Regions from separate parts of the Homo sapiens genome. Here region 1 is reported to be linked to region 2. Evidence: microRNA targets listed by miRTarBase, many of them from high-throughput screens and not tested one by one. Region 2 holds a microRNA gene; the other region holds the end of a gene's coding sequence.

Region 1 (5,069 bases), not on the chromosome of region 2:
ATCATTTCAAATGTTGCATTTATTGTATGTTCTAAAGTAGAAGTCTACAAATTATAATGTAACTAACTCATAGCCATTATTTCTAACCAGTAATTAAATTCTTTTGGTTTTTGTCTAGGTCCCAACAAGCATCAGAGTGCTGTGACCTGTTTACAGTTCAACAAGAACTTTGTAATTACCAGCTCAGATGATGGAACTGTAAAACTATGGGACTTGAAAACGGGTGAATTTATTCGAAACCTAGTCACATTGGAGAGTGGGGGGAGTGGGGGAGTTGTGTGGCGGATCAGAGCCTCAAACACAAAGCTGGTGTGTGCAGTTGGGAGTCGGAATGGGACTGAAGAAACCAAGCTGCTGGTGCTGGACTTTGATGTGGACATGAAGTGAAGAGCAGAAAAGATGAATTTGTCCAATTGTGTAGACGATATACTCCCTGCCCTTCCCCCTGCAAAAAGAAAAAAAGAAAAGAAAAAGAAAAAAATCCCTTGTTCTCAGTGGTGCAGGATGTTGGCTTGGGGCAACAGATTGAAAAGACCTACAGACTAAGAAGGAAAAGAAGAAGAGATGACAAACCATAACTGACAAGAGAGGCGTCTGCTGTCTCATCACATAAAAGGCTTCACTTTTGACTGAGGGCAGCTTTGCAAAATGAGACTTTCTAAATCAAACCAGGTGCAATTATTTCTTTATTTTCTTCTCCAGTGGTCATTGGGCAGTGTTAATGCTGAAACATCATTACAGATTCTGCTAGCCTGTTCTTTTACCACTGACAGCTAGACACCTAGAAAGGAACTGCAATAATATCAAAACAAGTACTGGTTGACTTTCTAATTAGAGAGCATCTGCAACAAAAAGTCATTTTTCTGGAGTGGAAAAGCTTAAAAAAATTACTGTGAATTGTTTTTGTACAGTTATCATGAAAAGCTTTTTTTTTTTTTTTTTTGCCAACCATTGCCAATGTCAATCAATCACAGTATTAGCCTCTGTTAATCTATTTACTGTTGCTTCCATATACATTCTTCAATGCATATGTTGCTCAAAGGTGGCAAGTTGTCCTGGGTTCTGTGAGTCCTGAGATGGATTTAATTCTTGATGCTGGTGCTAGAAGTAGGTCTTCAAATATGGGATTGTTGTCCCAACCCTGTACTGTACTCCCAGTGGCCAAACTTATTTATGCTGCTAAATGAAAGAAAGAAAAAAGCAAATTATTTTTTTTTATTTTTTTTCTGCTGTGACGTTTTAGTCCCAGACTGAATTCCAAATTTGCTCTAGTTTGGTTATGGAAAAAAGACTTTTTGCCACTGAAACTTGAGCCATCTGTGCCTCTAAGAGGCTGAGAATGGAAGAGTTTCAGATAATAAAGAGTGAAGTTTGCCTGCAAGTAAAGAATTGAGAGTGTGTGCAAAGCTTATTTTCTTTTATCTGGGCAAAAATTAAAACACATTCCTTGGAACAGAGCTATTACTTGCCTGTTCTGTGGAGAAACTTTTCTTTTTGAGGGCTGTGGTGAATGGATGAACGTACATCGTAAAACTGACAAAATATTTTAAAAATATATAAAACACAAAATTAAAATAAAGTTGCTGGTCAGTCTTAGTGTTTTACAGTATTTGGGAAAACAACTGTTACAGTTTTATTGCTCTGAGTAACTGACAAAGCAGAAACTATTCAGTTTTTGTAGTAAAGGCGTCACATGCAAACAAACAAAATGAATGAAACAGTCAAATGGTTTGCCTCATTCTCCAAGAGCCACAACTCAAGCTGAACTGTGAAAGTGGTTTAACACTGTATCCTAGGCGATCTTTTTTCCTCCTTCTGTTTATTTTTTTGTTTGTTTTATTTATAGTCTGATTTAAAACAATCAGATTCAAGTTGGTTAATTTTAGTTATGTAACAACCTGACATGATGGAGGAAAACAACCTTTAAAGGGATTGTGTCTATGGTTTGATTCACTTAGAAATTTTATTTTCTTATAACTTAAGTGCAATAAAATGTGTTTTTTCATGTTAGTATGCCTGTTTCTTCCACTGAAGTAATAATCCTTCATTATAAGTATTTAGGATTTGTCTATAATATTTAAATAAGCAAAATCTTGGTTTCTTTGCATCCTGCTGTGTGACATAGAAATCAATACTTCAAGCCTGTTTTATACCGCGAAAGTAAGGATAATGTGCTGCAACTGCAAATTTTATTTCTCTCCTAGACTATGAAGGAGGACACTCCACTGTGCTCATCTCTGTAGATTGCATTGGGGTGTATAAATATGAAATCTGGTTCCCTCAAAGAATCCACAAAACTTTTGTGATAATTACAACTAGAAGCCTTATAAATAACAAATTCATTTTGAAATTTTGACCACATATTAAGTGCTTACCCTCGATACTTTCTGTTCATTCTCTCTTAAGCTCCCACTATCCCTGAGAAGTAGGCACTATTATCTCCCATCTTAAAGACGAGCAAAAATCTGCAGCTGAGACTGGTTAGGCAATTTGTCAAATCATAGAACTAGCGGAATGCCAGAACTCAAACCCATATTTCCAAAGACTAAATACATGCTGCTCTTTAAGAAAGTTTGACAGACTAAAGCAAGGTTTGAGAGGGAAATAAGCCATTTTTCTGGTACTTTCTGACTGTTCTGTAGCCGTTTTGTTCAACAAATCTAAATTTTATAAAATCTAAATTTTATGATGTAAGGGGAAAAAATAAAGTTGTTTTTGAAACTAGTTCTAAATATATTTAGTATCTCAAATAGCAGGAGATATATATATATATATATATATATACACACACATATATATATACACACATCCAGTAATCTCAACTAACCAGGCCGTAGATGAAAATATAAAAGCTACTGAAAATGGACTCCCCTTTTTCTCATAGTCATAAAGTATGTGTTCTTTACTCATAGGGCAAATCCTGGGCCTCATTCTCCCAAAGCTACTAAATCAGAACACCTGGGAGTGTGACCCAAGAACCTGCATTTAAACTAGCTCACCAGGTGAGTTGTGGATACTAAAGTTTCAGAACCATTGCTTTAGATACCATTCCTGTACATTTGGTTATTTGGTTTATTAGTCCACAGCAAATTACAGACACAAAAATAGCAAGGAAAAGTGACAGGGTAAAGGAAAAAAACAAAAAACTACCTGGTTGAATGCAAGGCAAAAATCCTACTAGGCCGTGAAGTGCAGGGTCTTTAGAGTAAACCACGTTACTGCCCAAACCGTGACTACTGTTCACATTGATGACTGTGAATTGTCAAGAAAAAGTTGTAATTCTATTTGATAGTTCTTGAAACTGCTTGATTTTTCATAAGAGCATATAAATGAGGCTTAACTAGAATATAATTGAAGAGAAACATCCATTTTTAGAACTTTAGAGAATAGAATGAGTTCACAGGCTTTGCAGACAAATAGCCCTGAATTCATCTCAGTTCTAGTATGGTCTAGTTACTGGGACCTTTATCATGTTTCTTGACCTCGTGTTTCCTCATTTAAGATGTAGAGGATACCCATCTCCTAAGGTTATTATAAAGATTAGGTGAAACGTAAAGCACATTGCATACCGATGGCATTTAGAGCTCAGTAAATGGTAGCTTCTATTAAAAATTTTAAGTAAATAGACCCAGATAACTTTCTATATTAGAGAATTGAATGTATTTGTTACTCAGATTATGTAATAAAAATAGCATACACATACACACGTGTGCACACACACACACAGCAGTCCATTCTTTTACGTGGAGCCATCTAGATTCTCATTTGAGTTTTACAGAAACCTTGTGAGACAGACTGATATTGAGCACCTAACAGTGGTTTTGTATATACAGTCATCCTTCAGTATTTGGGCGGGATTGGTTTTAGGATCTCCCCAACCTCACCCCCATGGATATCAAAATTCATGGATGCTCAAGTCACTGATATAAAATGGCATAGTATTTGCATGTAACATATACAAGCCCTCCCGTATGCTTTAAATCATACCTAGATTACTTATAATACCTAAGACAATGTAAATGCTATGTAAATAGTTATTATACTGTATTGTTTAGGGAATCATGACAAGGGAAAAAGTCTGTACATGTTCGATACAGACATAGCCACCCTTTTCAAATATTTTTGATTCTCGTTTGGTTAGATCTGTGGATGCAGAACCCACAAATAATGGAGGGATGACTGTGTTTAGGTGTTCATTAAACATCATTTTATGAATAAATGAATAATCTTTATTACAATAAATCTTTGCTTGAAGGGAAAATGTTAGCATCCTTCTACAGGAATCAAAGTATAATTGTTGTAAAAAGGTCACTAAGAAAACTCCATTTTGTGGCCTTTTTAATGAAAAACTTTACCACCTCATGTAACTGTACATTTTAAAATCTTCATAACAGATATAGGCACACTTCATATTTAGATGTTACAAGTTCCCAAATATCAAACATTGCCTGAAACTAAGGCTGAAATTAGGACACAAAAGTAACCCATAAAAGCCAGTAGCAGGTACTTAGTATACTTGTTGAACTGAGCAGAGTTGATTATCTCATTATTTTATATTAGAATTGTTTATAATTTTGACACTTTGAAACCCCCTTATTGAGATTCAATTACCACAGCTATTTCATTAGGTTGCAAAAGCTAATGCCTACCAAATGGTAAGTAAATGTTTCAACCAGCCTTGTTTCATTTCAGAAAAGTAATTGACATTTAGTTATTTGTATTAACTGCTTTAAGCCATTTTCTCTACCAGCTTTGAGCTAGTCTGTTGTAAACTCTTCCATTTCCCTGAATTGATTAGAGGCTACAAAAGACCTCTTTGCTTTTCTCTTCCCTAAAGTGAAATGGGGATCAAGGGCAGCTTCCCCAGACCCAGCTGAGCCCTGGTTTTCTGTACACTTCTCCCTGAGATACACGTTGCACACTGTGAAACAAAGGTACGGAGGTGAAGGAGAGAAGACATCTCAGAGGCGCCTACTCACCACTGTCCTTGCCCCTGTAACTCCCTCTATTCCATGTTGAAACCAGAAACATGAAGCTCCGTTGCTTTGCATAGCAGAAATAGATTCACA
Region 2 (5,075 bases):
CCATCCACTCATCCATCCATCCACCCATCCATTCACCCATCCATCTATTCATCCATCCATCTATCCATCCACCCATCCATCCACTCATCAATCCATCCATCCATCCATCCATCCATCCGTTCACCCATCCATCTATTCATCCATCTATCCATCCACCCATCCATCCATCCACTCATCAATCCATCCATCCATCCATCCATTCACCCATCCATCTATTCATCCATCCATCTATCCATCCACCCATCCATCCATCCACCCATCCACTCATCCACTCATCCACCAATCCATCCATCCATCCATCCATCCATCCATCCATCCATCCATCCACCCACCCATCCACCCATCCACCCATCTATCCATCCATCCATCCATTCACTTATCCATCTATTCACCTATCCATCCATCCATTTACCCATCCATTCATCCATCCATCCAACCATTCATCTATTTATCTATCCATTATCCATCTATCCATCCATTCATCCATGCATCTATCCATCCACCCATCCATCCATCCACCCATCTATCCATCCATCCATTCATTCATCCATCTGTCTATCCATCTGTCTCTCCATCCTTCCATATATTTATTCAATAAATCTGTACTGAATTCAGACACTTTGAAGGTGCTGGGGATTCAGCATTAACAAAGTCCCTGCTCTTATGATGATCATGTTTCAAGTGTGGGAACAAACACATAAATAAATAAAGGTCAGATGATGGAAAATATGACAGAAAATATAAATCAGGGTAAAGGCATATGGAGTTCTGGAGGGGATTGATATTTTACGTATGATAGCCTCATGGAAATAAGTAATTCTTTCCTTGGGTCTTTATATATGAAAGCCTCATGGAAAGAAGTAATTCTTTTCTTATTTGAAAAGAGATGAGAGAAATGGGAGGAAGTGTTCCTGGAAGAGAGTGCAAAATTCCTGATTTAGTAGTGTCTACTCACACATCCGTCTTTCTAATAGTTTACTCAGCACGGATTCAATTGTCTATTGATTCATTATCTATCTATCTTTCTACTCATCTCTTGTTATATCCACCCACGTATCCATCTATTCATCTATTATCCATATCCATCCATATGTCTACTTCTCCTGACATCCTTCTATTAATCTTTCCAATCATTTATATGTCCATATTCCAGCCATCCAATCATCCACCCATACATAATTCCATCTCATGTGTCCTTCCATCAATACATTCATTTACCCATTTATACACCCATTCATCCATCATCCATTCATCCATAAATCCACTCATCTTTTGTTTTGGTACATTTGCTCATTTAGCTGTTGGGCTGATGATCAGCCAATATGCACAGGTACAACACAGTTCAATATAGGAATATATATAATCAGCACCCATTCCAGTAGATTCATATTTGTACCACATGCTTTGTTAAATATTCTAAATATCACATCTGCATTTATCTATCCACCCATCCATTCGTTCTTTCATCCAAACATCCATATATACATACAGATGTTCTTCTGTCCATCCATCTATTTTTTGTTCATCTGCTCATTTGTTCATCCATTCATCAATTACTAAATAATTCTTTCTATTTATGCATGAGTTATACTCTATTTATACATGAGTCCATCCAACCCATTCATTCATCCACCCCATCCATCTGCCCATCCATTCACCCACCTGTCCATCGATCCATGCACCTATCCATCCACTCATCCCTCCATCCATCCACCCATCCATCCATCATTCAATTATCCATCCATCCATCATTCAATTATCCATCCATCCATCCATCCATTTGTTCCTACTTCCTATCATTCTTCATTCATCTTTCCATTCATTCATACTGTTCTCCATAATTGATTCTTTTCTAATCTTTATTTTTCCTTTCTTATGCAACTAAGACATGGTTCATAAGCTCATGGCCCAAGGATAAAGCAGACCACCATGGCCCAGGAGGCTGAACACCTCAATAGAGCCTAAGCAGGGGCTACAGGGGCAGGGATCTGTCTTCATATTGACACATTCTCATCATCCCCGACACATACCTGCGAATGTATGTTCACAGAGCAGCATCCCAGTGAAAGGTGCTTTGAGCACTGAGAGAGCCCATGGGGACAGGGGAGGTCAGGGTGGTGGCCTCATTGGCTCCCGAGTGATCCCTGGTGGATAAATGTCTGTGATTTAAAGAGGAGGCAGCCTCCAAATGCTTGCAGCATGCATCTGTTCAGTGTGGCCCTCTGTTCAAGCAGGCACTGCTGACAGCAGGAGAATGGGCCAGAGCCACGGGTAGGGGGCAGGGTGGTGGGTCATGGGTGCTGGGGGCTGGGGGCTGGGGGCTGGGGGCTGGAGGCTGGGTGGTGAATGGTGGGTGCTGGGTGGTGGTGATGAAGCTCAGATTTTGGTTGGGACTGGGTCTAAGAGAAAGGCTAAAGGATTATTTCTAGATTCATCTGGAACGAATTGGCTAGATCCTTCTATCCCAAGTCCCATTGCTTTTCTGAGGGGAGGTACCTGGGACAGGAGGAGGAGGCAGCCTTGCCTCAGAAACCAAACTGTCAAAAGTGTAGGTTCCACTCAGGAAGGAGGAGCACAGGCACTTTTGAGATGAGGGGGACGTGCTCTTCTCTGGAGCAGAAAGAAGCAGTAGGTGAGGTCCCACCTGCCAGGGATGGAGCAGGAGAGTGACCCCTGCATAACCTTGAATCCTCATCTGCAGCCCATGAGCAGCTGGAGACTGGGGACTCTGGGAAGGGTACTGGGCTTAGAAGCCACCCCCTGCCCCAGTGGACAGAGTATCCTGGACACCTCAGCCACTCTCCCTGAGCGTGTGGTGTGTGTAGAGGCCCCTGCGTCTATACCACTGCTCCCAGGGAAACTGGGAACCCAGGAAGTATGCTGGAACCCTTCATGCTGTGACCTACAAATGCCCCACCAGAGCGGCCCTGCTCCAAGCACTGAGGTCAGGGGCCCATGTGCCTGCCTCCTCCTGCCGGGGGATACAGGGGACTCAGAGGCCCTCCCTGCCACAAACTCCCTTCCCCGACAACCCACAAGCAGCTTGGAGGCAGTTAGCAGATGGAGTTAGGATAGGACTTGCCTGGCCCCAAGAAAGGGCCAGGGGCTTTCCTCCTGCCACCCCTGCTCAGCATCTCCCTCCTCCCTTGTCTGCCTGTGTCTGGCACTGGTGGGGCCGTGCTGGGTGGGACACGGCTAGGAGGCCTGGCTTTCTCAATCCCCTAATCTCCTATCAACCCCACCCCCATGCAGCCCCTCCAACCTCTTTTCAGGTCCCTAGATGTTGGGGAGGGGATGGGGGCTGGGCCGGCTGTAGAGAGTCTAACCCTGGGGAAGGGGCCCTGCTGGGCTGCCCCCTGGCCGAGCCTCTCCAGCCCGCTCGCTTCCCTCTCTTCTAAGTATCAATACAGCCTCGTCCACAGCCAGGGCCTGGTTCTGTCTGCCTCAGCGCATGTGGAAAGCCCTCTTCGATTGCCTTATGGTCCTGGGCTGCCATCTCCCAGAAGGTCTTTAGTGGCCCCCAAAAAGATGCTGAGGGCTGGGATTTGGGCGGGGCTGGGCTGGAGGGAAGTGGAGGACCTTGCTGGTCCTGCAGCGCCCGGTCCCAGTTCCGCTTTTCGGGACGGTCCCTTTAAGTGCTTGCTGAGCTTGGGCCATGAGCAGTGCTCTGGTGCTCTTGGGAGCCTTTGAGTCCAGAGTGGCTGGTGTGTGGTGTGGGGTCAGAGAGACCCCGGGAAGGGCAGCCCAGCCCAGCTCCCTCCTGGTGCCCGCAGGTCTTGTGGGCCCTCAGCACCCGAACCCCACAGGGGCAAGGACTCAGGCCCCTCCCCAGGCAGGGAGCAGCCCTTGGACAATGCACTTGGCCCCTGTGAGCCTCGGTTTCCGTCTGTGAAATGGGAGGCTCCAGGGACCTGCCTCACAGCTCCGGGGGATGAAACAAGAGCCTTGGTTTAAAAAGCTTGGCAAAGGCAGGGCGCGGTGGTTCATGCTTGTAATCCCAGGACTTTGGGAGGCTGGGGCGGGTGGATCACCTGAGGTCAGGAGTTCAAGACCAGCCTGGCCAACATGGTGAAAGCCTCTTCTCTACTAAAAATACAAAAATTAGCCGGGGGCAGTGGCAGGTGCCTGTAATCCCAGCTACTCAGGAGGCTGAGGTGGGAGAATCTCTTGAACCTGGAGGGCGGAGGTTCCAGTGAGCCGAGATTGTGTCACTGCACTACAGTCTGGGCAACAGAGCGAGACTCTGTCTCAAATAAATAAATAAATAGCTTGGCAAAGACTGGCATGGAGTGAACGCTTGGTCTGAGTGGCTACATTCTGAGTGTGCAGATGGGGAAACTGAGGCTTCAGAGGGGTGCGGCTTACTCATCCAGAAAGCACTCCGAGGGCCTATAGCAGCCGAAGCAAGGCCAGCCCTGGGGCCTTGCAGCCCATCCCCCTCCCGCCGCCCCAGCAGTGGGATCTCAGGGGCTGGGACTGCAAGGCAGAGCTCACGCCCCCACCCCTCACCAGGCTGAGGACTCAGAGCGGGAGACCACTGGGCCCTTTCCACTGCCAACACCCTCCTCTTCTCTAGGGCTCACCCATCCCTCTGGCACGTTCTCAGGGAACTGAGGTGGAGACAGGCTGGCCCGTAGGGTAGCGGAGCAGAGGCCCACCATCCTGCCACCCCAGGGTGTCACCGGCCAGGGCCTGTCCCAGCTGGACCCCAGACCCTCCTGGCACTGCCCTTGTGTGGCTCCAGGATTGTTTTAGGAGACACGAGGGAACCAGGAAGGGGGCGCAGGAAGAAAGGATTCTGGCTTCCAGAATCAGCGGGGGTGGGGCCTGTGATGCTCCCACTTGTGCGACCAGCCCAGCTGGGTGTCGGTGGACAGCAGCGCCTGCCAGCCCACGAGGAAGAAGACATCCTTCTGCTTCCCTGGGAAACTTCCAGATGCCTCAGACCCCTTACCCAGGGCAGGAGGAAGGGGACCTCCCCAGGGATCCTGGGTCCAGACATCAGGTCTTGACCACAGGAAGGTGTAGGGAGGGAGCCCCAGGGCTTAGCCCTCAATCCTAACCTCCCTCAGCAG

What was found. The annotated mature microRNA hsa-miR-4298 reads CUGGGACAGGAGGAGGAGGCAG and lies in region 2 at 2,497-2,518, shown strand. An mRNA with a match to its seed (bases 2 to 7 or 8) in the 3' UTR can be bound and repressed. Matches are read on the target gene's strand: a 7mer-m8 pairs with bases 2 to 8, a 7mer-A1 pairs with bases 2 to 7 and ends in A, and an 8mer does both.
Region 1: miRTarBase lists FBXW7 as a target of hsa-miR-4298. Seed matches in the 3' UTR shown: 8mer at 1,132-1,139.

The regions. Positions count from the first base shown.
Region 1 is chr4:152,318,199-152,323,267 of GRCh38, reverse strand. FBXW7 (F-box and WD repeat domain containing 7) reads left to right here. Exons shown (of 14, transcript NM_001349798.2): 14 at 119-2,724. The coding sequence ends at 387. Among named protein-coding and RNA genes, the nearest start is that of FBXW7-AS1, 17 kb to the left of the region's middle.
Region 2 is chr11:1,856,948-1,862,022 of GRCh38, reverse strand. MIR4298 (microRNA 4298) reads left to right here and starts at 2,487; the gene lies at 2,487-2,559. All of the region lies in intron 1 of LSP1 (lymphocyte specific protein 1), which reads right to left.